Homo sapiens: one gene and its partners. The protein of the gene in region 2 interacts with the protein of the main gene of each other region in a pairwise test. Each region holds a gene or a part of one and is shown on either strand. Other genes may lie near its edges. The genes, in order: ERLIN1, FA2H, TMEM41A and SYT2.

Region 1 (7,026 bases), on a different chromosome or scaffold from region 2:
TTTGCTGAATGAGGCTGAAGAACATACTACATTGTGCTTGCCAATCTTGGGAAATCTCACAGATTTTCAAATATGTGAAAACATAAACACTTACTGTACAGATACCATGAGTAAGTTGCATCAAAAGAGATTTTAAAAGTAAAAGTGGGAAGTCCCACTCAGGCACCCCTCTCCCTCACAGGAGAGAGAGCTATTCTCCTTTCTGTTTCTTTTGCCTATTAAACCTCTGCTCTTAACCTCAAATAATAAAATAATGCCCCCATCCCACTCACATACATAGAGTGAATGGAGGAAAAAAATGGCTAATGAAAGGAATATATGTATTGAAACTGACCCCTGGGTTTTAAGCATATATTATATATCAAAAGCCAGTCTATAATATAGTCACTCCCTTAAATAACATAGGAAAAAAAAAATCAAAGATGACCATTTTCATCATTCTAATTTGCCAGAGTAGTTTTTCAAGAAGAAAAATGGTATATAAATATATGGAAAGGAAAAAAATATAATAGTGACTGTAAAAATAGTAACCCAAAAATTACTAGAAGGCAGTGAATTCAAGTTGTAGATATAAGATAAATCTACCAAGAATCAATCACATTCCTCAATGATTAAAAAAAAAAAAGACTACATATTGAACAGCATTAAAATTCATTAAATCCATTGGTATTAATTTAACTTAGGATATGAGTTTCTCCCCTAAATCAGAAATTCTAAAAACCAAAAAGGCTGATATGATAAAGTAAAGCCATAAACTATGTTTCTATTTTTAACTTATATTGGAGGATTGCATGAGGCCAGGAGTTTGAGACCAGCCTGGGCAACACGGCAAAGGCCCATCTCTACAAAAAATAAAAAAATTAGCCAGATGTGGGGGTGTGTACCTGTACTCCTAGCTACTTGGGAGGCTAAGGCAGGAGAATCACTTGAGCCCAGGAGTTCAAGGCTGCAGTGACCTATGATCATGCCACTGCACTCCAGCCTGGGCAACAGAGGGAGACCCTGTCTCAAAACAAAACAAAACAAAACAACATGTATATGACCACTTAGGTGCCTGATATAGCTTGAAAATATCGATAATGAAAACTCATCTGGAAGATTAAGCTGGCAGAAACAGCAAAGGCCATTATTTTTTAAAAGATGATGTCTCTTGCCAGATTTTAAAATAAAAAGTTGAATTATCACAACCATATGGTAATGTGTTAAAAATAACAAAGCTCAAAAACAGCCTTGAAATTCTTAAAATGCATTCCAACTATTGTAAAAAAAATTTTATAACAAGACAAAAGCAACCAAAGCAAAGGAGCTCTTCTCTTCTCAGGGTATGCTTAAGTTATTGCAAAATATAAAAATTATTTTAAAATTTTTTTAAACCCTAAAACAATGGAGATCTCTACCACTTTAAGAACGTATAACAAAACTACATTTTTTCAATCAATAACTTTTTATAAAAACAGCAAATAAATATAAGTAAATTCAAAAGATCCTTCTGGCTGTTGTGCAGAAAATGAAGTAGACAAAGGTAAAAGTGAAAGTGGGGAAAGAAGACAGGCGGCTACTGCTACTGCACATGTCAAGGTTAGAGTTGGTAGCTTGGCTTGAGATGACAGTGAAGATGGAGGTGTGGTCAGTTTTATTAATACATGGATTTTGGTGGTGGAATCTGCAGGACATAGGGACTGATTAGATGCTGAGGGTGAGGCGATTGTCAAAGATGCCTCCTACACTTCTAGATTGGCTTGAGGGGAAAGAGTTACCATTAACTGACAAGATGAAAAACACAGGAGAAAATTCGATTTGATGAGAAAAGACCAAGGACTCAATAACTAATGAAAGAGTAGGAATGGGAAGATCAATGGAACAGAACTAAGTTCAGAAAAAGACTCTAGTATATAATGGAATGCAGTATGTAACATAAAAACTATTTCAAAGAAGGGGGAAGATGGAAAAATAAACTATTCAGTAATTACCGCTGTTACCCAATTTGGGGTTGAGGGGATGGAGCTGAAGGCCTACCTTGCAACTGAGATCAAAATGGGTTGCAGATGAATTAAAAGATTTAAATCTAAGAATACAACTGTAAAAGCAGATACAATTTTTATAATTTCTAATTTTAATTGCTATACTTTTAAGGTGGTGAAAAGCTCTTAAAACATGCCAGCTCAGCAACACACCATAAAGACAAAATCACTGAAATTACTATGTAAAACATGAACACTTCAAAGTTATCAGCAAGGAAAAAACAAAGTTAAATGACAAAGAAAAAATTTGAAGAAAATGTTTCCTATAAATATAAAAAAGAGCTACAATAACTAACATATGAAAAAGTTTATTTTTAAAAACGAATTCTACCCCTCTCAAAGGGTAAGGTTCAAAAACAAGTTCTCTATATACAAATGCTATTTATTTATTTATTTATAGACAGGGTTTTGCTCTGTTGCCCAGACAAGAGTACAGCATGAACACAGTTCACTGCAGCCTCAACCTGCTGTGTTCAAGTCATCCTCCCACCTCAGCCTCCCAAGTAGCTGGGACTACAGGCACATGCCACCACACCTACCTAATTTTTTAAAAAAATTTTTTGTGGAGAAGGGGTCTCACTATGTTGTCCAAGCTGACCTCAAACTCCTGGGCTCAAGGGAGCTTTCCACCTCAGCCTCCTAAAGTGGTGGGATTACAGATGTGAGCCGCTATGCCCAGCCAAAAATAGCTTATTAAAATCAGTTAGAAAAACCATTAACTACAAAAATGAGCAAAACCAACAATTTATAAATGAAATAAAAACAGCTAATAACCTAGGGTATTCAACTTCAATAATTAACACAAAATAACAGACTAATTTTCTCCAAAAGGATTAAGAGAGAAAGGGAAAGCTTGCATCTGCTAATTATTTGGGTACAATCATGCAATCAAATGTGTAAGAACTACAGCTTACCAACACTGCTAATGAGGGGGGGAGCTGCTAAAATTTTTCTAAAAGGTGATTCGGTAGTATGTATCAATAAGCCCCCAAACAGGGCATACACTTTGATCATCAATCCCACTTCAAGAATTTATTGTAAGAGAGGGATTTAAAAAGATGTACAGAATATATAAGCTTGGTCATTCCAACATGCATACAGTAGTAAAAAATTTGAAACCATAGAGATTCACTAAATATAACCATTAAAAGTAATGATTTACCAAACCTATATTTTTGTTTTGGAAAGATGTTCATAGACAATGTTAGTGAAAAAAGCAAGTATGGTATGATTCTGCTTTAGTTGAGCATGTATGCATTTATATCTACAAACATTTGTTCATATACATTAAGAATAGTCGAGAAAGATATAACAAATGATGTTATCCCTGCATAATAAGATTACTGGTGAATTTCATTTTATTCTTCATCATTTTCCTAGTATCTAACTTTTTTCTACAACATAAATAACGTGTGTGTATAAAAATTCCAAATTTATACAGAACAAATCAGTAAGAAAGAAAACAATCCAACAGAAAAATGGGCAAAAGATATGAATAGGCAATCAGCAGAAGACAGTATAAATGACCAATAAATGTATCAAAAGATGTTCAACCTCATTAACAACCAAAGGAATGCAAATCAAAGGGAGATATAATTGCCCACCCATCCATATGGTAACAATCAGTATGTCTGATTGCTTCCAATGTTGGTGAGTTCATGGGTCACAATTATTTGCACATATTGCTGTTAAGAATGTACATTTGTACAGTCAGTTTGAAAGATAATTTGTACATACAAGAACATGTGTCATGAATGTTCATTACACTATTGTTTAATAGCAAAAAACTGGGAACAGAAAAATGGCTAAGTAATATAAGGCAAGGAATTCTAAACAACAGTTGAATGAGCTAGATCTCTGAGTAACACCCTGGGCAGAATCTAAGAGCTGACCTTCACATTCACTATCTTTAAAACTAAAAAGCTACTCCAGCTACAACTGACTTGAACAACTCAGAGGATTTTACAAAGTTACCTCTGGACATTTCAAACGACCCCTTAACTCTGGTGGCTCACCCTCAAGCGCCTGAGATAATGACATTGCATGAATGAGGCCATGAGGAAAACCCCACCTATCTTTCAGTCTTGTTTTTGAGAAGCACGAACACATACAATCACAGTGAGCGCACACTCTCAGTAGCAGTGGTGCTGAGTGTAAAGAATTGAGAGACATGTGATAAGCTTTAGTTGCAGTAATGTTCATCACAACAATCAACAATCAACTGGTCTCCTAGAGCTCCTGAGAAAGGACACTAGAGAAGCCTCAATATAACTTCTTAGGTCATCTGGATCCAGAGCAGTGGCTTTCGAATGTTACTGACAGTGGACACAGTAAGAAACACATTTTGCACTGACGTCCAATATAAACACCTACCCCGCCACACTGTGAAACACAAGTGTCACAGAATATTTAAACTTATTACATACCATTTCTTTTCCTATTCTATTCCATTTTATTTAAAATGCTGTTCATGACTCACTAAAGTTGATTTTACAACCCACAATCTGGAAAACACAGTGACCCAAAAAAAAGCAGGGGTAAAACCTCTCACCATTCTATTTCCCAACGTCACCATCACCACTACCACTAAATTCACCTGCTACCTTGTTTTTACTAGGGCTGTCCCTCCCACTTGAAATACCTTTCTCATTCTTCCCCCATTTAAATCCAATTAATTTTTCCAAACCTACTTAAAATCTCAACTCAATCACAGCCCTCTCCTAGACACACTGTCTTCCAATGTTCTCTTACTCTTACAGCAATAATCATTCAATAGATTCATCTGTCAATTAATACTTTGTGATAACTATTTTGTCCAGGATTGTTCAAATTTTACACTTGAACTCCCTTTTCATAATCTTACTGAGGGCAGGGATTATGCTTACACTGATTTATAACCATTACTGTATCTTAATGCTTCATACATGGCAGAAATATGAATTTTACTTCCTTGTAAGAGCCTCAGCTTATCAGTTCCCTCTAGGAGTTCACAAATGTCACCCATAGTAAGCTACAAGAGTATTTTATTTTGGCAGAGATCTAAAGTCAAATTGAGAAAGGTATTCTATAAATCACCATAGCATCTCAAATAATTGCTGAATAAAACAATCCAATGAAAGGAGGAACAAACTCAAAGCTCTCAAAATCCCCAGAGAACTTCCCTAGGAAAAGAACTTACCTGTATAGTGAGACCTGGGGCCATGAGGTTTAAGTCTTTCTGCAGAGCTTGCTTCAGGTTTTCATCTATTTGATCTGTTTTTTAAGCCAAGAACAACAGATCTCATGATAGTCAATTTTTTTTACATTGTATTCATAATGAAACAAAACTAATCATTATTAGACCTAAAGTTTCCACAGTACTATTCTTTTACAGAGCTTAAACTGCCTTTTCTTCCCTTTTGTGTGGGAAAAAAATTGCAAGGAATTATCTAATAAAGAAATTAAGGAACGAAGATGACAAGCAGATAGTCTGTTTATCCAATAAGTTTACCCACTAAATGTATTACTTAACTATGGATAAGCTTTTTTACTGGGTAACTTATTAGACTTATTTACTGGATAAACAACTACTGGGTAAAATATGTTGATCTAATAAATGGAGAATCTGGATCTCTAGTATCTTAATTCAGGGCTCTTACTCAATATGTATCCTCATTCTCAAAGAAAAACAAATTTCTATGTTCAGTAAATCTTTACTCAAATTCCCAAATAACTAAACTTCATTTCCATGGATCTCAGCCTCACTGTTATTTTGGATTTAAAGAGAGAGAGAGAGAGAGACAGAGAGAGAAGCTCATAGAAAAGTATTTGAAATATACACAGCATGAACACTTGGGCTTGTAACTATGCACTTTCTATTCACCTCAATGGTACTTTCGCTATTTAAATGACTGGTGGTGAGACAAAGCAGGACCCATCAGTTTCCTCACATGCCACTTCAGTGGTTGACAATCACCAAAGAGGACTCAATTGGTAGATTTTAAATTGATTACTCTTGCTTATTCCTTCATCTTAGAAATTCACTAAAAATTTCAGGAGGGAAAAGTGAGCTACCAACAGCAACAACTCATTCCCTGGTCAGAACTTCCACTATCATAAATGAAAAGTAAGTTGTACAGAAGTGAGTTAAGAAAGCAGGGCTGATACTGCAATCCTTAGAAAGGCCTTTTGTAAACTCGTCCTTGGTTGGCACCTAGGAACTTGGATTTGTAGAAGGGTCCCACTATCCCCAGAGCTAATACAATTGACTTGCTGTGAACTGTTTATACAATGTGGCTTATGCCAAACACCTGCATTCCTTCCAGGAGTCTGGAATTTTTATGTGGTAGGCAGAGGGTGCCTACATAATCAGCCCCCAGTGAAAACCCTGGGCAATGAGTCTCCAATGAGCTTCCCTAGTAGACAACATTTCACATGTGTTGTCACAGCTTGTTGCTGTGGGAATTAGGCACATGTTTGACTCTTGGAAGCCTGCACCTGCTTTCCTCTGCATTTTGCTGGTGTGCCTTTGCCTCTCGCTGATTTTGCTTTGTACCCTTTGGCTGTAATAAATCTTAGCTGTGAACACAACTATGTGCTGAGTCCTGTCAGTCTCCTACCAAATCATCAAAAATGGGAGCCTCAAGACACAGGTTTCTAAATTTTTCAAATTATCTATTAAAACATCAACAAAGCTAATTTTCACTAAGTTATTACAGTAAAAACAGAATACAGTCTGAGTAGTTTTTCCAATCTCTAACAAGTTATATAAAAAATTTTAAACTTAAGATAAAAAATATTTTAAAGACAATTGCTCTATGATAAATTCAGAAGAAATGCTTAAATAGCACTAAGGTTTACCAATATAACCTCAATAAGTAAGCTGAACAAAGATTTCCAATTGGCTATTTACATACATAAGAATTAAGACACTTACCAAACAATTCAATGTAAACTTCCTGAAGTGTGTGGGCACTGCAGAACTGGTTCAGCTCATGGTGGATTTTATTGAAGATTAAGGTCTTGT
Region 2 (7,026 bases):
TTTTTTTTTTTTTTTATAGACAGAGCCTTGCTCTGTTGCCCAGGCTGGAGTGCAGTGGTGCAATCTTAGCTCACTGTAGCTTCTGCCTCCTGGATTCAAGCTATTCTCATGCCTCAGCCTCCCAAGTAGCTGAGATTATAGGTGGGCACAACCACACCCCGCTAATTTTTGTATTTCTAGTGGAGACAGGTTTCACCATGTTGGCCAGGCTGGTCCCAAACTCCTGACCTCAAGTGATCTACCTGCCTCGGCTTCCCAATCCCCTCGGCTGGGATTACAGGTGTGAGCCACCACACCCAGCCCCTTTATTTTCTTTATGGCATTTATCACAGTTTGAAATCTTTGCCATTTATTGATGTCCTTGCCTGTCTCTGCACAGCTGTCTGCACCAGGGAAGAGAGTAGAGGGAACCCTCTGTATATGCCCCGTACATGGAACAGTGCCTTGCCGTTCCCAGGAGCTCGATGGTAGTTGGCAAATAAATCAATGAACACACATAGGGGGCTGGGAAGCACAGGCCCATCCTCACCTGACTTCTGATGTGCAAAGTGGTGCTTGACGTGGTGGGCCTTCAGGCTGTACAGGTAGGAGCCCTTGTGCGGCGAGCCAAAGTGCAGGTAGTAATGGGTCATGTCATAGAGGACGTAGCCCAGGAGGCCCCCCGCAAACACAGTGCCCCCTACTGCCTCGGGCAGGATGAGCTGCATGCACAAGTAGAAGACGCCGATCACCAGGGAGGCTGGCACAGGGGGGAAGACCAGGCGGGAGCCGTCGAAGGGTGCCTGCAGATGGAGAGGCTTGGGCATCAGGAGGCAGCCAGGGGCCCCGGCAGCTGGCCAAACCCTGGCCACTCCCTGCAGAGGACAGGGGCACAGCGGCCCAGACATTCCACTGCGTAGGCTTGGCACCTTTGGTGGCTTTGGGGAGGGCGGGCCACCACGTCTGGAAGATCTGGAGAGACTGTCTTACTTCCCATTTGTGAGCCAGGAAGGGACCTGGCAGATTGCAAAGGAACATGGGATGGGCGGGATGGGCAGGATGGGCAGGATGGGTGGGGTGTGCTGGCGGCTCAGAGCCCATCTTATAGAGGCCACTGTGACTCTGGAATTTGTCAGGTGCTAGACAGGTATCCCATCCCTAAATGCCGTGCCCCTGGCTAGAGGGGCATTCTGGAGACAGGGCACCTAGACTGAGGCCTGATGTTGTCTGGGAGAGCAAGGCACTGAGGGCAACTGAGGTTAATGCAGCCTCTGTGGCGGGATGACCCGGAAGTGTCACTAGAGGTGTCCTCCCCACCCCCATGTCCAAACAGGAGGCCTTTTTTGTTCCAAGGGGGTGTCGCCACAGTGAACCAGAGAACACCGCTTCACCGTGGCCCTCGAGCTTCAGAAGCCAAGGGCCTGGCATAGAGGTGAGATCTTAGCTATGGCTTGGTGAGGAGTCTGAGAAGAGAATCCTGCAGCCTCTCTGGGCTGGAGGAGAGAGAGAGAAAGCAGGTGACAGTGACACAATGAGATGCTGGCGTGGGCCTCCCTCCCTTCAGACCAGGAACAACAGGACCAGTGATGTGCTGGAAAACCAGCTCTCAGGAAAAGGAGGAAGGGAGAGAGCTGGGGAATGAGGGAGGGGGAAATAAAGGGAGGGAGGGAGAGCCCTGATTGGTAGTGTTTGCCAATTCCTGCAGTGTGAAAACTGCCCTGGCGCTTTCAAGCGCTGAGGTGGCGTCACTGGAACAGAAACAGGAAAGGATGTGCATGGGTGCTCTTGTGAGCTGGTATGGGCCAGATCCGGGTCACAGCTGGATCAGGATCCTTAGATGGATAGGTCTGGGGATCTGAGAACACGTTCCTGATTGGAGCCCACGTGGCTACAGGCCATACAGTCTCCTCGGGTCCTCATGGTGTGGCAGCAGGGGACTGGACAGACTGGGGTGGAAGTGTCTCAAAAGAGGGAGCCTGAGACAGCCCCTGGGGCCCCAGAATGGCCTGAGCAGGTTCCCAGAAGGTTCTGGTGTCCCCTGTGGATGGGAAAGATAGCGGACAGGGCAGTGGATCTGAAAAGGCTTCACAAACAGGGCAAGGGACACAGAAGCAGATGCAGTGAGCTCTGCAGAGCAGAGGCCAGGTGAGGCTGGAGGACACAGGCCAGGCCTGGGCTGCGCTACCTCTGAGAGCATACCTGAGAGACAGGTTGGCCCAGGACTGGGCACCCACCCTGATACTGGCCCCTAGGAAAGCCCCCTAGGATGCAGATCAACTCTGGGGAGAGCCGGGAGGACCACAGCCAACCAACCTGAGAACTGTCCCAGGCGGCCGATCAAACCCCGAATCGGCTCATCGAGATGAACCGGATTAAGTTGCTGCTGGGAAACCAAGGTGAAACCCACGTTCAGTATCAGCGACATCAGGGTCTAAACTGGTGTCCCGAAAGTATCATATCTGCCATATTTTCTCTGATTTATGCCCAGCAGAGAACAGAGTGTGGAGACGGGCTGGGGAACAGCCTGGGATGGGCCAAGGACAGCACAATGCAGGGACAGAGAAGCAGCGGGGGGTACAGGGGAGGTAGCTTCCTTTGGGCAGACCTATCTTCTCGGGCCAGCTTCTGGGACTGTCGTGGAGTCCTTGAAGGGCCTCAGGGGAAGGGTGATTGAGAGCGCAGACTCTGGAATCCCCAGAATGGGGTACGACATCCTGGCTGTGCCAAGTGTGACCTGGGGCAAGTTCCTTAGTCCTCCTAGGCCTCAGTCTCCTGCTCTGTGGAACGGGGAGAACCATGGGGCTGTTTTCAGCACAAGCTCCAGGAGCGCAAGGCTTTTTGTTGTTTTGTTCAATGATGTCTAGAACAGTGTCTCGCACACAGGAGGCACTCACTGGGCATTTGCTGAATGAATGAACGAATGAATGAGTTGTTTTGAGGATTAAAGGTGATGCGTAAACAAGGGTGCAGAGGGCCTGGGGTCAGCTTGATGCTGCACACCCACGCTGTCCCCGCCTGGCTTAGGTTCGGATGCCCAACCCAGTTGCCCCGTGAGTCACATCAAACGTCCCGTCCCTCCCAACCCACAGCCAGACTCCCAGGAGGCTCCGCAGCACCTGAAGCTGCGGCTGGCTGCCGGGCCCTCTCGGGCTGCACATGCTAGGTCCGGGCTGGGACCCCGCCCCGCTCACCTTGTGGTGCTGGCCGTGCATGACGAAGTGCAGCATGATGAGGTAATAGCTGTCGCTGGGGGGCTTCATGTGGAACAGGAAGCGGTGGATGAGGTACTCGATGAGGCTCCAGAGGAATGTCCCCAGCATGAAGAGCCCGGGGAACATGGACTTGGGCACTGCCACCGTGTACTCTGCAGGGTGGCAGGGAGAGCGAGGTGAGGACCGGTGCATAGCAGCCTGGTAGCTCCAGGTGTCCCTGCCTCACCATCCCCATCAGCTCGGGAGCTGCTGCCCTCTGTTGGACAGCTACAGGGCCAGGCCATACTGCTGGGGTCCTTGAGTCAAAATGGGAAGGAGGCTGTAGGACTCTGGTCTGGGTCTGGGAAGTCCTTTACAGGAGTGATGGGCCACTGGCTGGAGGCCTGACATCCTCCTTACAGAGGCTGTGGGAGGAGTGGCTGTGGCTGGGGCTGGGCCTTTACCTGGAAGGGTGACCTTGCCCCAAGGACATTGGAGAAGAGAAGGCGACACTCCTGAGCCAGGGCGTTGTTATTATTATCTTGAGACAAGGTATCTCTGTGTCGCCCAGGTTGGAAGACTGGAGTGCTGGAGTGCTGGAGGGCAGTGGTGTGATTACAGCTTACTGCAGCCTTCCCTTCCTGGGCTCAAGCGATCCTTCCACCTCAGCTTCTCAAGTAGCTGGGACCACAGGTGCATGCCACCGCACCCAGCTAATTTTAAATTTATTTTTTATTTTTATTTTTTTTGTAGAGACGAGATCTTGCTATGTTGCCCAGGCTGGTCTCAAACTCCCAGACTCAAGCAATTCTCTCGCCTTGGCCTCCCAAAGTGCTGAGATAACAGAAGGGAGCCACTGTGCCTGGCCTCCAGGGTGTTAATGATGGGAAGTGTGACCCACCAGGGACCATGGGGCAGGAAGGACAAGAAAAAACAAGCACCGAGATCTCAACAGACAAGACCTGAAATCATAGCACAGGAGGAAGATGTGAAAACACTGAAGATGATCAGCCTAGGTGGAGAGGAGAAGACTGGAGACAGGGCACCATCTTCAAGCACATGCTTCCCACCACCCTCCGGAGACAGCCTGCAGTCCTAGCGGCTTTCAGCTCTTTCCTCCACCTCATTCATTCTTTGACCTCATGGAGATTTCAGCTCTCATTCCTGTTTGCTCCATATATTCATCCTCATCCTTTTTTTTTTTTTTTTTTTTTTTTTTTTTTTGTGAGATAGAGTCTTGCTCTGTTGCCTAGGCTGGAGTGCAGTGGTGTGATCTCAGCTCACTGCAACCTCCACCTCCCGGGTTCAAGTGATTCTCCTGCCTCAGTCTCCTGAGTAGCCGGGATTACAGGTGTGTGCCACCACACCTGGCTAATTTTTATATTTTTAGTAGAGAGGGGGTTTCACCATATTATCCAGGCTGGTCTTGAAATCCTGACCTCAAGTGATCTGCCCTCCTCAGCCTCCCAAAGTGCTGGGATTACAGATATGAGCCACCGTGCCCAGCCCATCCTCATCCTCTTATCTTTGTTTCTTTTCTCTACAAACCATAGCTTTGGCCATATCTTCTCTCTTCTTAACGGCTTTATCTAAATCTAATTCACATCCATATAATTCATCCAAATAAAATATATAATTCAGTGCTTTTTAGTACACTCACAAAGTTGTTAAACCGTCACCCCAGTCAATTTTACAACATTTTTATCACTTCCCCGCCAAGCCCCTGTACCCATTAGCAGCCACTCCCCATTTCTTCTCAGACCCTCCCAACCCTAGGAAGCTACAGGTCTACTTCCTCTTTGTTGGATTTGCCTATTCTGGACATTTCACGTCAATTGAATCATATGACATATGGTCTTTTATGACCGGCTTCTCTTACCGAATATGTTCAACATTCACCCATGTTGTAACATGTATTACAACTCCATTCCTTTTTAAGACTGAATGATATTCAAACTTTATTCATCCATCCATCAGTTGAGGGACACCTGGGCTGTTTGTAGCTCTTGGCTATTGTGAATAGTGCTGCTATGCACATTCGTGTAGAGGTTTCAGTGTGAAAAGATGTTGTCCTTTCTCTTGGGTACAAGCCCAGGAGTGGTACTGTTGGTTCATATCATAACTCTATGTTTAACCTTTTGAAGAATAGCCAGACTGTTTTCCAAAGCTAGCCATTCTCTCTCTCTTTTTTTTTTGTGAGGCAGAGTTTCGCTCTTGTCACCCAGGCTGGAGTGCAATGGGACGATCTCGGCTCACTGCAGCCTCCACCTCACGGGTTCAAGTGATTCTCCTGCCTCAGCCTCCCGGGTAGCTGGGATTATAGGTGTGCGCCACCATGCCCAACTAATTTTTGTATTTTTAGTAGAGACAGAGTTTCAACATGTTGGTCAGGCTGGTCTTGAGCTCCTGACCTCAAATGATCCACCCACCTTGGCCTCCCAAAGGGCTGGGATTACAGGAGTGAGCCATCATGCTTGGCCTAGCCGTTCTCTTTTAACCCTTACTCCATCTCCCTCACCTGCACCCATGAACCCTCACCCCTGGGTCAGCGCAGGAACCTGCCTTTGTACCCCATACCCAAGCTGCTGAGCATGGAGACTCACACAGCTGTGGGTCTGGCACCTTTAACCTCTGCAAGACCCTAGACACAGCCTGATGGATGATCCCTGTGCATCTTCAAGTTCAGCTCCCTCCCCACTGCCCTTGAACACGCTCTACTCCCCTTTACTGCCTCTCCTTCCACCCAGCTTCCTACTTCACAGAGAAGAGAGGCCCTGGGGTTGGGGAGGAACTATCCCCTCCACATACTTCCCCCAACTTCCAAGCACACCACATTCTGCCGGTACCCTGGCGCATCCTCCTTGCTTCTCAGGGAAGAGGTGTGCACCGGCACGCGGGCGCTGGATGATCAGAGCAACAGTAACGGCAGATGTGTCCTGACTGATTCCTGTGTGCCAGGCACCGCCCAAGGGCCTTCCATGGATTACTTCCTATTTCATCTCACCACAGCCTTACAAGGGAAGCCCTGCATTGCCTGCATGATTGAGGACGTGGAGGCCCAAAGTCCATGACTTGCCAGGCTCCCCCTGCTCGGCAGTGCAAAGCCCTCAGCCGCCTCCTCCCACCCTCCCTCCCAAGGGACTCCTCTGGGCTCCTTCAGTCTCTCCTTTTCTCCTGGCTCTTCTGCTCATCTTTCTGAGGTAGGCAAGACTTTCCCATCATGGACTCAGCCCCTTCATCATCAAGGCTCCTAAAAAGTCAGGCTAGGCTGAACATGGGGGCTCATGCCTGTAATCCCAGCACTTTGAGAGGCTGAGGTGGGAGGATCGTTTGAGCCCAGGAGTTTGAGGCCAGCCTGGGCAACACAGTGAGACCCCGCCTCAACAAAAAGTAAAAAAATTAGCTGGGCATGGTGGCTCATGCCTATAGTCCCAGCTACTGAGGAGGCTGAGGCAGGGGGATCACTTGAGCCCAGCAGTTCAAGCCTGCAGTGAGCTGTGATTGCACCATTGCACTCCAGCCTGGATGACAGAGCAAGACCCTGTCTCAAAAAGAAAAAAAGAAAAGAAAACGTAGGTTGGACTCATGGCTCCACTTTGCCACTTCCCATTGGCTTGTCAAGTCCTTAAAAATCTGTCTTCTGGGCCGGATGCAGTGGCTCATGCCTGTAATTGCAGCACTTTGGGAGGCTGAGGTGGGCGGATCAGCTGAGGTCAGGAGTTCGAGACCAGCCTGACCAACATGGAGAAACTTCCGTCTCTAAAAATACAAAAATTAGCCGGTCATGGTGGTGCATGCCTGTAATCCCAGTTACCTGGGAGGCTGAGGCAGGAGAATCGCTTGAACCCGAGAGGCA
Region 3 (6,961 bases), on a different chromosome or scaffold from region 2:
TTTCTAGTCCTGTCTTTTTCTAAATGTACTGTTTGTGCCCTGAGAGCTGCCTTAATAATCTCAGCATTTGTCAGAACTTGAGGGAAAGGAAGACTTTCCATGACTGGGTTTCCTGCAGCCACAAAAAGCAGGTAATGGAGAAAGCTAGTTTCTGCGATTCTTGTATTTGACACAGCCACGAAAGGAAGGGGCAATCATCATTTTATTTGGTGACAGCCTCTTCTTGAGTATTCTGTAAAAGCTAGACTGGCACTCTGCTTCTTCCCTATGCTTTCCTGCTGCCCATCCGGTAGCTACTCCTGTTACTACTGACCCCACTATACAGGGAGCAGAGAGAGAAAATGAAGATGAAAATCTGGCTTCTGAGAAATTATTTTGGTAAGAAGCATTGAGAGTGGAAAGCTTAAAACACCATTTTGGACTGTCCAATTTTCAGCCAATCCTAATTCCCACTGGCAAAGGTAGTTGAAAGTTAGCAACATGTTCAAACAAGCACCACACAGAACACTTACATCCATTTATTTGGGAAATTGCTTCACCTGTAAACTCACAACTGATAAGGCACATTATTGCAAAACTGTCGGGGTGGAGGGAGGGAGGCAACTCTAAGGATCCTGAAAAGGGGCAAAGGGCACACACTTGCGATGATGTGGAAAACATGTTTCTCCTTCCCTCCCCCTACTCCAGAACACCAAAGGCCACAGTCTTCAAAGTCTGCTGCCTCCTTCCCCCACTCTCGTTATCAAGGCTTCTTTTAAAGAAACACGTTTTAAACAATGAAATCCTCGGTGTGAAAGGATCATACCATAACCAAAAACCATCACCTGGGGATGCACTCTTCCTATGGAACGTGAGTAATTCCCAAGAATTCATGTAGAACAAGAGGCATAGATTAAAGTCTTGGCAAGACTCTTGGCCAAACCAAATCATCAACCCAGCAGATGATGCCCAAAAGCAGCAGTCTGGTAAGTCCTGATGAGTTACTCCTGTGGGGTGCAGGATCACAGGGCTGGTCAGTTTAGGTGCCAAGGTCCTTCTGTCTTTGGAAGCATTAATCCAGGTCTGTAACAATTCTGTACTGCAGCTACAGGAAGTAATGACAGCTATAGGCCATTAAGATACAACACAACAAAGTTATCAGAAGCCAAGGTTTCCTCTTTGAATTAAAAGATAAATTAAAAGATACAATTGTTTAGTTACTCTAAGCAAATACAACAATGAAAAACATTCAGAGGGTATACTGCCTGATGGCCCCATATACTGAACCCATTCTCCTAGCATGACACAGAACGGATTCCTGCAGAAAGGACAGATAAAATGTTTGCCTGGTCATGATTCAGGTGAGTCAAGGGCCCTGCCCCATCCAGATGGGTAAGAATTTCTCCAGAACATATCCATGACATACAGCGTTTGCTCCATTCATATTTAATAGTCTGTTTGCAATCAGCTTAACTGTCAGGACATGCGATCATAAGGAGGTCTGACATACATGGTAATGTCAGTGTGTCTGAACACAAGAGCGTGACAGAAATCATCATGTATGTGAGCAACACGTGGAAGTCCTAGGCAGTTCGTCAACTTGTTTCACTTGGCTTATGAAGAGGTAGGTCATCAGCAAAGAAGTACAAAAAAATGCTCTTCAAGAGACTAACAGAAGATGAAGAGCGGTGTCAGTGATGTGAGTTCCCGTGTCATCATTGGTACTAAACATCCACAAAGATGCAACAGGAGGACATCTGTCCCAGCAGCCTGTCACTCTGCAAAAGCAGTACTCTGGACAAGGACAATCAGCATCTTCTCCCAAGGCAGCTCAGGGGCTGGCATGAGGCAAATACAACAGGCTATCCCGAACTCCTTATTAGACCACAAAATACAAACAGCATTTTCTTTTTTTCTCTTTTTTTTTTTTTTTTTGTCAAGACAGTGTCTCACTCTATCACCCAGGCTGGAGTGCAGTGGTGTGATCTTGGCTTACTGCAACCTCTGCCACCTTGGTTCAAGCAATTCTCCTGCCTCAGCCTCCCGAGTAGCTGGGATTACAGGTGCCTGCCACCACGCCTGGCTAATTTTTGTATTTTTATTAGAGACAGGATTTCACCATCTTGGCCAGGCTGGTCTTGAACTCCTGACCTTGTGAATCACCGGCCTCGGCCTCCCAAAGTGCTGGGATTACAGGCGTGAGCCACCGCGCCCGGCCACAAACAGCATTTTCTAGGAGGCATCTGTTGCAGTGTCTGCTACACCAGGGCTGGTTTGAAAACCTGATGTAATACACCTTCAAGAGCAGAGTGTCCTTTCTGAAAAGACACTGCACATTGATGCACAGTGTCCACATCACCTATAGAAGGCAATCAAAAACAATGAGGGGCTTTAGAGGACCACATCCATTACACAAATAAGCAACTGAGTCCAGGGATGTGGCAAACAGAAAATCCAGATCATGTGTCTTTTCTACTGTGTATATGATTAGCAGTACTTGTTTCATTCAATTGCAGATGTTTCTGACTAAATTTTTTAATGAGGGTTCCAGGAATTAATGCCACCATGGCAATGGCCAACAGCTTAAAGACAGTGTCCCAGGAGAAAAGAGCATCCAGAGAGGTTAGGGTTGACAGGATGGACCCTGTCTGCACACAGATGAAATTATATGGGATCAAACCTGGAAGAAGAAAAGGACAAAGCACCTGTTACAAGCAGCAGCAAAATTAAGAAAATAATAATTCAGAATGTCACCAGGAACAGTGACTACGGTTTTTTTTTGCTTGACTCTTGACCCTTATACATATTAACTCTTTCCCTTCTTTCCTTCTTTTCTATTATTTTCCCTCCTTTCCTCACTTCCCATATATGCCTGTCTTGTTCAACAAAAGAACTTGAGATATTTACACAAATAATACATGCTACTATAAGACAATTTTAAAATAGGGCCAGGAATGGTGGCTTATGCTTGTAATCCCAGCACTTTGGGAGGCCGAGGTGGATCACCTGAGGTCAGGAGTTCGAGATCAGCCTGGCCAACATGGTGAAACCCCGTCTCTACTAAAAACACAAAAATTAGCCGGGTGTGGTGGCATGTGCCTGTAATCCTAGCTACTCAGGAGGCTGAGGCAGGAGAATCACTGGAACCTGGGAGGCAGAGGTGGCAGTGAGCCAAGATCTTACCACTGCACTTCAGCCCAGGCGATAGAGCTAGACTCTGTCTCAAAAATAAATAAATAAATAAATAAAATTTTAAATAGGAAAAGCAAAATGCGTGCAGAAGAATACAAGACATCAGGGAGTACAGTTAGTAAAAAAATGCATAAGGTTCACCTGTTTGCCAAAAGTGGGCCCCAAATTTGGTTCTGAGTACCCAACAGCCAAAGTAAAGAGAGAAGTGCCATTGTTGACAAACAGTTTTTTAAAAGAAGTACTATTCACATTCTGTACTGTCTCAAAGATGTCATCAAATCCACTGGATTCCAAAAGTCTGGCTGGCTGAACAGGCTGGCTGCAGAACAATCAGCTGGTGACATTGTTAAAAAACCACATCCTTGGGCTCCACCCCAGAAATTCTGGGTACTTGGTTCTGGGGTAGTGCCCAGGAACCTGTATTTTAAAAGCCCCTTCTCCACTCCCACCCTGAGATTCCGATTGGTTTGGAACACTCTGATAGTCCATTTCTCTTCTATAGGAGAGGAAGTATACAGGAGATGAAGATCCCAGACCCCTCAGGGTCACACAGCTTGTGAGACAGAGGACAGGAAGCCTGGTCTCCAGAATCTTGCCAAGCCTCATGCCACCTAGGTAATTAGAAGCAGCAAACCCCCACTAGCTGAGGGCCTGAGGCACTTTGTCTGAAAGCCAATATGACCAAAATTGGCCGTGGTAGATCTTGCTTCTATTTAAGATCTCCATTTCTCTCAGGTATCTCCTATGAATAGCAGCTGCTCAACCACAGATTTGCTCTGTTTGACCTAGAAGCCCTGAATCGTCTTTCCCTCTAGGATCTAAGGGAGGTTTAAGAGAAGAGATCCTTGCCTTAGGCTTAAGGAGGGTGGTTTTCTTCCAGTATGGAGAAAGTAGCAAACACTGATTTTATAGGATGTTAGCACTTTACCACTCTGATAAAGGTGGTCCAAGGCCCATACTTCAAGAAACACTGCTCTAGTCCCAGCCCCTTATCTGGACGAGTAGCCCGTTCAGACTAAGTAGCTCGCTGCAGGTCATATAATTGTCAAAGGCAAGGAGAAACTTTAGATATCGTCTAATTCAGTAGACTGCAAAACTCAGGATCCAGCGGAATCCCTTTTAGGGACTAACTACTTGCATCACCTGGAAAATGTTAAAAGATCCTGATCCCTGAGTCCTACCCCAGAGATGATTTAGTTGATGTGTGGTGTAGCCTTAGCTTAGGGATTAAAATCTCCACAGGTGATGTTTTGTTGTTTTGTTTGTTTTTGTTTTTTTGCTTTTTTTCTTGAGATGGAGCCTCACTCTGTCACCCAGGCTGGAGTGAAGTGTCATCCTCTCAGCTTACTGCAACCTCCGCCTCCCAGGTTCAAGCCATTCTCCTGCCTCAGCCTCCCAAGTAGTTGAATTACAGACGCACACCACCATGTCAGGCTAATTTTTGTATTTTTAGTAGAGATGGGGTTTCACCATGTTGGCCAGGCTGGTCTTGAACTCCCAACCTCAAGTGATCCACCCGCCTCAACCTCCCAAAGTGCTGGGATTACAGGTGTGAGCCACTCAGCCCGGCCTCCAAGTGATTTTTAATAGGTTTGCAGGCGATTCTTAATAGGTTTGCAGTTTGAGAATGACTGGGTTTGCAGTTTGAAAATGACTGACTAGGAACTGGATTAAAATGCATATTCCCAGATTCCACTCCCAAGATTCTGATTCAGTAGGTCTGGAGTAGGCCCCAAATCTAGATTCTCAACAAGCCCCCTGACCCTAACAATCTGATGAAGGTGGCCCAAAGCCCACACTTTGAGAAACACTGCTCTATTCCTAGCCAGGTGGTCCATTGAGGGTAAGTAGCTTGCTGCAGGTTGTGCAATTGTCAAAAGGCAGGAAGGAACCACACTGATGCCAGCAATTCCTAAGGCAGAACTTAATCAAAACAGGGGCCAAAAACCAGACAGGAAGTCCCTTGCTCTGCTCCTTTCTTCTGTCCCCACTCAAAACTCATGGACACACACCCTCATTCCAACCCTGCTCTTCCTGCTAGCATTTACTGAGTACTTACTATGGGCCAATTTGTATACTTTACACAGACCATCTCTTCTAATCCCAGTGCCTAGTGCATACAGCCATGCAATGGACAATCTTTATTTAGTCCAAAAGTATTTTTATGGGTTTTCATGTTGAAGCCTGAGCAGATCTGAAATCAGGAATCATTTCTTTAGATCATAAGGCTTGAAGTCACACTTTGTGAGCCTGTGTTCTCAGAAGCAGGCACATGCTCACGTGGCCAATAACCCAGGGCAGACCCCCAGCGTGACAGCTCTGAAGACTCAAACCTACCCCACTAGCATCTTACCGATAAGAACTGAGAAGAAGAACTGCACGATGGGAATGTTCAGAATTGGGGCCGAGAGGTTCAAGAACCAGTTTGGTGTCATGGGGAAAAGTCTCAAAAACAATAAGAAAAAAAACAAGCTGTTTCTGTTCTCCTCCACCTGTAGCCAAAGAGAAGAAAGCTGTTAAGAAGCAGAAAGGGTCTCCAGGTGTTGAAAACCTGCTGGTGCCAGGCACTGTTCTAGACACTTTACATAATCTGTTCCCAATTCTTCCAACAACCCTCCAGGGAAAGACTGTTTTCCTCATTTTAAAATAGACATGCTGAGGATCAGAGAAGTCAAGAACTTGCCCAAAGTCACAGAGCTGGTAATGATGGAGCTGGGATTTGATCCCAGGTCTATGTCTCCTGAAGACATCAAAAGAACCCCTAGGACCTCCTGAAACAGCGTGGAAGAGTACTGTGGGAAATCCCTGCCACTCGCTTCTCTCAAGGCCATGCACGTAGCGACTGTCTGGGGTCCCAGCTCTCAGATGTGACCCCTCCCCTTACCTTTCTCTGCAGCAGGGCCACTTTATCAGGAAAGTAGGACACCACCAACTGTTTGCCAAAAATACTGGAGAGCAGGTAGCAGCATGTGGCACCCACCGAGGTCAACACACAGCACAGCAGAAGCCCCAGCCATGGCCCAAACAAGGCACCAGCTAAAACATTCTGCAAATAAAACAAACCCTCAGGCATGTGAACATCTGGCAGCTACCAGGCACGTCATCTTGGAGCCTGAGAGTCATAGGTTCCCTCCTCCTTCACTGCTTTTTTCCAGCTAAAACCCAATTGCGTTATTTATTTATTTTTAAGAAACAGGATCTCGCTCTGTCACCCAGGCTGGAGTACAGTGACATGATCATAGCTCACTGCATCCTCGAACTCCTGGACTCAAGCGATCCTCCTGCCTCAGCCTCCCAAGCAGCTAGGACTGTAGGCACACACCACCACATTCACCCACTTTTTAAAATTTTTTGTGGAGATGGGGTCTCACTGTGTTGCCCAGGCTGGTTTCAAACTCCCGGACTCAAGTGATCCTCCCACCTCAGCCTCCCAAAGTGCTAGGATTACAGGCGTGAGCCACTGCCCCAGGTCCCAATTGCCATTTAAAGAGGTGAATGAAAAATTATGAAAAGGCTGGGAACTACACCTGCCGTCAGTCTCTTCACCTTGAAAATGAGGATAAGGATAAAAGCCTCAGGGGGCAGGAGAGAATGAAATGGGATCTGTGGCTGTGGTAGATTCTGCAATGACTGGGGCTCCAAGAAAGTAGAAATGAAACTCACGAGTTATTTTTACTATTTCAAAAGATGAACACAAACCATGAATTTTCCCTTGGTAAGACCACACAAGCTATGTAAGATGTCTTGTTTCTTTGCTTTTTGCTGGAATTACATCTATGCAGTATGTTAA
Region 4 (7,026 bases), on a different chromosome or scaffold from region 2:
GGAGGGCAGAGGGCCAAGGGAGCAAGGAGTGGGAGTCGGGGGAATTCCAGTGCTCCCCTATATCTCCTCCCAAGGGATCTCAGCCATCTGTCCCCCATCCTCTTCTTACCACCCCCTTCTTACCTGGACCTCAGGAGAACTAAGAACATTTAAACTTTCCTTTTAAAGTTCTCTGGCTCTGCACAGATAACGTGTCTTCAGACAGTGTTGCTCCACTTAAAAGAGAAACAGAAGCAAAAGCACAATGGGGAATAAATGCAAATGAACTTGGCTGCTTATATTCTGGAAAGGGAGAAAGCATCTGTGTTTCCCACTGGATGGGGTGAAGATCCAGGAGTTTAATTTTGGTCTTTCTGGTAATGGGACTTCTGTTTCTTCATAGTTTGATATTTATTGTCAATAAGAGTGAGATTTTGGGACTGAGAGTCCCTGTTAGTCTGACCCAACTAGTGAATAGCTCATATCCATGAATGTCCCAGGAACTACACTTCTGGGGAAACCATGACTGGCAGGAGGAAGTATTTGATGGCATCGTTTGGTCCTAGTTCTGAACACATCCAGTCTTCACATCTTGCTGCCTCCCAAATAGCCACCAACAGGAGTATGAAAGCCCCGATATCTGAACAGGATCCTGAGACTTTGCCATAGATGAGAGAAGATCTCCCACTTAGTGGACTTCTTCATGTCAGGGTCCCCAAAGAGCCTTCTTTTCCCACACAACTTTACTGTCCATGGCTCATTCCAGGAATGAAGAGAGATGCTCAAAGAGACACACACACACACACATTCCAGGAATGAAGAGAAATGCTCAAAGACACACACACACACACACACACACACACACACACACACATACACACACACACACACACACACACACACGATCATTGGCCACTGTGATGCCTTCCCTGTCAGGAAGCAGGATGTGCTGCCATTTTGTTGGTCCAGAAGGCTCAAAAAACAGGAACTGCTGCAAGTTTGTGCCAGTAGAGAGCCTCGCTTGGGGTGAGGCAGATGTGAAGCTTTGAAAGAGTCGAGGGAACTGTGACAGGGCATGCAGCAAGGACAGCTCCTGGGACCGTGAACAGAGCCAGGCTTCTCTTTCACCTCTTAGGGGACTCTCCTCACACAGCCATCAAAGGGAAGTTGGTCTTTAAAAAGAGAAAAACAAGGAAAAACAAGGACACAACCACCCAACAAATGAAAGAAAAAAGAAAACCTCTAAGGTTGCATAACTGAGGTATTGATAGCTCTGGATCTTGTCAGTGTCCGTGAAAGGTGTGGGGTCCCAGCCGCTGCTGTCTACTTGTTCTTGCCCAGGAGTGCATCCACCTCCTCCTCAGGCTTGAGCGAGTGCCACTGGGCGATGGGCCTCCGGGGGTTGGCCAGCATGTCGGACCAGTGCCGCAGCTCTGTGCCCGTGGCATTGCTGCCCACGAAGATCTTGCCTATGGCTTCGTTCTTGCCCAGCTTGTCATAGTCCAGCACGGTGACCACTACCTGGACTTTCTGCAAGGAAAACGAGGGAGGGAGTTGGCAGACAGAGACGTGGGATCCCATGACCAAATTTATCCTCCATCAACCTCTACTCCCAATGATTGGGAAGGTAAGGCCTCCTGGGGCTCCTTGGTTTCATCTCTGCTCCAGTGAAGACTGAATTGACATGGAGGCAGAGGCCACGCCTTTGGCAGCCTTTGTTTCTACCACTGGGCATTTATTGAGGATGTACTGTGCTCTAGACCCTGTTAAGCACTTGGAGGGGGAGAAGAGGGAAGGAAAAGTGAAAAGATGAATTTCACTTCCTCAATGAGATCAGCAGACATGTAACTGAAAACTTACAACATGAATTGATAAAGGTTATGCTAGAGAGATGGGCACAAGGTACTGTGGAAACTTAGAGGAGGTGACAGTCCTGGGGCCAATCAGAAAAGGCTTCACAGAAGAGGTGACTGGGACATGAAGTCTGAGAATTTCTCTAGGAGGAGAAAAGAAGGAAGAGGATTCCAGGAAAACAGATTTGCTTGGGTAGAGGCATAGAGACCTGAGAGTGCATTTGGCATCTGAGAAACATTAGATGTTCAGTCATTGAGGTATAGGGTGAGAAGCAGTGAGGCAGGAAATGAGGCTGGTAGAGTAGGTTGGGGTCAGCCAAGGAGTCTGCATTTTGTCTTTCAGGCAAGCAGTAGGGGACTCCTGACGACTTTAAGAAAAGGAGTGTCGTGGACATTTGAGAGAGAGAGCCCTGGCATTGAGTTGGAAGATTTACTGGAGGAGGAGTGGGCCTAATGGCAGGGAAGAGACCCATTGGAGGATGCTGGAGGGTCTGGGAGGATGGATCCCGAATACCTGTACCAAGGCAGGGACAGTGGGGATGGGAAGTCAAAACCAGGTTGGAGAGGTATTTAGGAAGAGAATCAAGAGGACTTGATGATCAGCTGGATTTGCTGAATGCTCGATGCCTTTTTCCCCTGTGACTCCAGCCAACTCAGATTTGTCCTTCAGGACCAAGCTCTCTCTGGGAAGCCTCACTACAGTCCTCCGCTTCATGGACATTGAAGCTGTCGTCTCACTGTGCTTTACTAGACTGTTTACTGGTGCCCTCCCACTGTGAGGTCCTTGAGAGCAAGGAGTGTGTGGATTACACACTTATTTCCTCATCCCCTAGCCTACCACTTAGGAAATGCTCAGTAAAGTATGTTGGATAAATGAGAAAGGAAAAAGGAAATAGTCAGTCTAAGGTGACGCCCAGGTTTCTGACTTGGGCCACTGGGTAAATGATGGACTGTGGGGTCATTCATTGAAAACAGAATTCAGATGAAACAGGCTTGGCTGGGAAGAGGTAGGAAGAAGAACATTACATTGGTTTTAGGCATGTTGAATTTGAGATGCCTGGGTCAGGATGCTCTAGATCTAAAATTCTCTGTAATGAGGACTTCTCTTGGATTAACATTATCACTGAGCTGCCCAGTGTTCCCTTGAAGTATTCCATCAATAACATCATACACATCTCCATAGATGACAGAACCAACTCTGAAGATTCTCTTGTACCCTTGCCCCCAGCCCTCCTGCGGGGAGGAGAGGGGGTGGGATCAGCTCACTACAAAGAAGGAGAGACCAAGACTCCATGATAACCGACCACTCTGCAAGCCCCCAGCTGCGCCTGACTTCCCGCCCAAATGGGTGGGTGGGTGGGTCTCTTGTCCTACCACGTCCAGATCCCACTCATACCTGGAAATGGTGAAAACCAGACCTCATCTCCAACATTTACAGAACTTGCTGGTGAGAAGGAAGGAAAAATAGAGAAGGCTGGAAGGGTGGAGGGAGAGAGGAGAGGAAGCAGATCAGAGGAGTAGATGGGAAAGACCTAGAGAGCAGTGGAAGTGGGGCAGGGATGGCCAAGACAGGATGTGGCTGGAGAGGATGGAGGTGGCAGCGGCCACTCCCACCCTCTCAGCCAGCTCCCAACCCCTCTGGCACCTTTGCTATACCCCCATACATCTGTGTGCATGACCATGGTCCTTCAAGTCCTAAACGAATGATTTGCAGAATTTTTTGAATTAGTTCATGTTTATCTCCTCAGAAAAGGGGGATCCCTGAAGCACTTGGGAAGGAGGCCCCACCCAGGCACCATTAGACCTCGAGCCTTCCCCTACCAAGAAAGGCTGTTCCATGGTCTCTAGGTGAGTTCCCTCTCTTCAACCTCCCCATACATGTTTGCCTCCCCAAACCCTGCTCCATGCCTAGGAACCCAGGGCTCCAGCACCTGAATCTGCTCGAAGGGGATCTCAAAGCTGAAGGACTCGTTGAAGTATGGGTTCAGGGTCTTCTTCTTCACGGTTGTCTTCTTCTTCTTGAGCCTCTTGCCATTCTGCATCAGGTGGATCTTCACGTACGGGTCTGCGGAGGGAGAATCCCAACCCCAGAGAGGTTCCCCTTAGCCCCCAGCCTTCCTGCCGAATGTACCAAGGCCTGCCCAGAGCATCGGTCAAGAGGGGGTCTTCACTCCGCTGAGACCAGGCCCTCAGAAAGCCCCAAGTCATGCCATCCAGTTCAAAGGTGGCAAAAGGCTTCACCTCCAGGACCAACTGTGACCAGTTGGTTGTGGCTTCCTGAAGCATTGGGTGGAGGGCATTTCTGAGTCTAAGTAAGGCCTTGTGAGAAAGAGTCTGGGGATTCATCTGTGATCCTGTACTGGGGAGTGGGTGGGGAGTGCTGAAGTCAGGACACACATCTGCTGGGTCATAATCCCAATCCGATCCCCCTAATCTTGCAGACAAGAAACTGAGGCCAAAGAACGGAAATGACCTGCCCGAGGTCACACAGCGGGTCAGTGACAGAGCCAGGCTGGCACTGAAACGCGCTGGTTGGAGCCCATGCCCAGGGCTGATTCTCTGGGAAGGCAGCTGAGGCAGCAGGCTTCATCCACTAGAGCCCTGTGCCATGGGCCAGCCCCATTCACTGCCAGGTAAATGTGATATTCAGAGCATCTTCCACTCCCTTGCCTCACCCTCCCCTTTCCAGGGCAGAGCCAGCAGAGCCTACAGCCTCTTCTGGAAACATGTCTCGATTGTGGTGTCATGCTTTGGGCTAAGCCCTGCTCATTTCCCTGGGAGAAGTAAAATCCTAAGTCACAAACTTATCTGGGGATGAAATTTCTCTGATCCTTTTCTCTGTAGCCCACAGTGCATGGCCAGAGAGCGCTGGGAAGGCAGCTCTGATGGGGACAAGGGGCCCTTGGAGAAAAGGAGGGCCTGGGAAGCTAAGGCTCCCCCGCTCCTCGAGGAGACATCTCAGTCCCAGGGCAGCAAAGTGTTCCTCTTCACTGGAGTGTGCAAACTCTGGGACTTGGTGCTGACTGGCTCGCTGGTGCCACCCAATGGCAGCCAGAAGCTCTCCACGTACCTGAAAGGCCGCCCACGTCCATCTTCTTGAGGTTCTTAGCCTCCAGGATGCAGACAGTGAGCTTCCCGGCCGTGGGCACATAGCGCAGGGAGGTGCAGATGTCGCCCAGCTTCTCCGGCTGTCCAGGGGAAGAGCAGGACTTGGGTCATCTCACCCATCCTAGTGCCTCTCTCATGGCTGACCTCTTTCTTGCCAAAATTAGCAAGGCAGTGATGTGTCCCTGCCTCCCTCATCACCAGTCCCCATATATGTGATGGCCGAGAAGGTCTTCCAGCATCTGACCTTGGGTCCCCCTGATGCAGTGCAACAAAGTCCCTGAAAGTGACAGGTTGGGACCTCAGGAGCCGTGGGCTGAGGATGCTGACAGATGAGGGGGGTAGAGGACAGCTGCGGTGGCAGGACTGAGGGAGGGATCCCTGGGTGGATCTGGGATCTGGGAGGTTGGGAGTATGTTTGGGCTCCCACCCCAGGCCCTGGTAAGGTGGGAAGGTGTGCGAGAAGCGGGTGGGTTAGCCACGTGTCCACCACCAAGGGCCCTGGGGGACTGAATGTCTCAGAAGCCTTCTTTCCCTTAACAGTCCCACCCACCAAGATCTCTCCTTGTGGACCATTCCACTTGTAGTATGATTTGTGGTTTTCGGAGCAATTTGCATCCCTTTTGTTACTATCACTGCAACTCTTTGATGTAAACAAGACAAGAATTCTTTGTAACCAATGAGAAACTGAGGTTCCCAGAGGCCATGGTTTGCTCAAAGTCACACAACAATTTAGCACTGTAGGCAGGCTGAGGACCCAGGGCTCCTAATTCCTAAGGCCAACACCACACTGCAGAGTCAAAGCTGCTCAAAGTCAAAGCCACCCAGGGCAAGACTGACGACATCACACAGGTCCTGGTTCAGGTGTGCTGGCCTTCCTCCCAGGCACAGGGGACAAAAGGGAAAAAAGGATGTCTTAAGCTTCTCTACTCAGCCCTCCATCACTGCCTAGAGTGTGCCAGGTAGCAGGGCCCTGGCCAAGACAAATGATTGATGCCCAGAAGGAAGAATGGCTAAAATGGAGTTTTAGGTACACAGCAATTGCTCAGCAAATATTTAGTGAGTGAATGGATGCTGTAGCAGTTCTGGGAGGACAAGTCCCTTTGCTGAGTATCCTTTAGAACAAACATGAGCTTTTCTTGTGGGTGAACTGAGGCACAGAGGCGTGAATCACTGGCCTTAGGTAATAGCAGAAGCTTAGGAGTAACAATAATAATGGTGTTTTTATTTATTTGAGTACCTACCAAATACCAGTCGCTGCGCTAGGCGCTTTATGCAGGTAATGAATCCTCATCTGTAAAAAAAGACTAAAGGAGGGAACCCGAGTCCAGAGAGTGTAAGCAACTTGCCCAGGGTCACACAGCCAGGCAGTGTGGAGCTGGGATCCTAACACAGGTCGTCTGCCTCCAAAGCCCACCCTGTTTCCATCATGCCAAGAGGTGGAAGCCCACCTGTACATTCGTCTTTCTGCCCAACCTGGCCTCATCTCTGCTCTTACCTCCTCCTTTTCCCCGCCTTGCAGGTCTCTCCACTCCTCAATGGGCTGGCCGAGGTCCACTGTGTTCATAGGCACCTTTACCTCTCCAATGATGTCATGTTTGGAGAAGCGGTCAAAGTCATAGATGGCCATCACCAGAGTTTTGCCCCCAAGCTCCTGGTATGGCACCTGCAGGGCACAAGCAGAATCAGAGGGGGCCAGAGCGACTCACGCACCTCCAGGGGTGCTATGGGCAGGGGCCTGCATTCCAGCCCACAGGGTCCAGGTTAGTGTGCCGAGACAGACAAAGACCAAGGCTTTTGGGGAGCAGAGTGTGAGGGTGGGGTGGGAGGGATCCCGATCCTCCATAGAGGCCGGGGTAGCCCTGCAGTCAAGGCTGCCATTGTTCCAGGCTGAGCCATGGCTAAGGACCAAGGAAAGGTCTGTAGAACTCAGCAGAGAATTGGGATCAGGCAGGGAGCTGGAGTCACCCTTCCAGCCCTCAGCACCTTGAAGGTGAAGGTTTCATTGAAGGCAGGGTTCAGTGTCTTCCGATGGACTTTGGTCTCATATTTCTTCTTCTTGTCAGGAAGGAGGAAGACCTTGACATAA

The links.
Region 1: the proteins of FA2H (region 2) and ERLIN1 interact in binary tests that used the Homo sapiens proteins (3 or more experiments, as listed by UniProt).
Region 3: the proteins of FA2H (region 2) and TMEM41A interact in binary tests that used the Homo sapiens proteins (3 or more experiments, as listed by UniProt).
Region 4: the proteins of FA2H (region 2) and SYT2 interact in binary tests that used the Homo sapiens proteins (3 or more experiments, as listed by UniProt).

Annotation. Positions count from the first base shown.
Region 1 is NC_000010.11:100,169,009-100,176,034, forward strand, and holds part of ERLIN1 (erlin-1), read right to left. Parts: coding exon 6,937-7,026; intron 5,274-6,936; coding exon 5,200-5,273; intron 1-5,199. UniProt on the Homo sapiens protein: Component of the ERLIN1/ERLIN2 complex which mediates the endoplasmic reticulum-associated degradation (ERAD) of inositol 1,4,5-trisphosphate receptors (IP3Rs).
Region 2 is NC_000016.10:74,715,818-74,722,843, forward strand, and holds part of FA2H (fatty acid 2-hydroxylase), read right to left. Parts: intron 3,344-7,026; coding exon 3,171-3,343; intron 2,757-3,170; coding exon of another isoform or gene 2,433-2,756; exon of another isoform or gene 783-2,432; coding exon 530-782; intron 1-529. UniProt on the Homo sapiens protein: Catalyzes the hydroxylation of free fatty acids at the C-2 position to produce 2-hydroxy fatty acids, which are building blocks of sphingolipids and glycosphingolipids common in neural tissue and epidermis.
Region 3 is NC_000003.12:185,489,099-185,496,059, forward strand, and holds the end of TMEM41A (transmembrane protein 41A precursor), read right to left. Parts: intron 6,218-6,961; coding exon 6,056-6,217; intron 5,664-6,055; coding exon 5,525-5,663; intron 2,660-5,524; coding exon 2,439-2,659; 3' UTR 503-2,438; downstream 1-502.
Region 4 is NC_000001.11:202,595,455-202,602,480, forward strand, and holds part of SYT2 (synaptotagmin-2), read right to left. Parts: coding exon 6,924-7,026; intron 6,604-6,923; coding exon 6,436-6,603; intron 5,021-6,435; coding exon 4,903-5,020; intron 3,898-4,902; coding exon 3,764-3,897; intron 1,510-3,763; coding exon 1,303-1,509; 3' UTR 1-1,302. UniProt on the Homo sapiens protein: Exhibits calcium-dependent phospholipid and inositol polyphosphate binding properties. May have a regulatory role in the membrane interactions during trafficking of synaptic vesicles at the active zone of the synapse.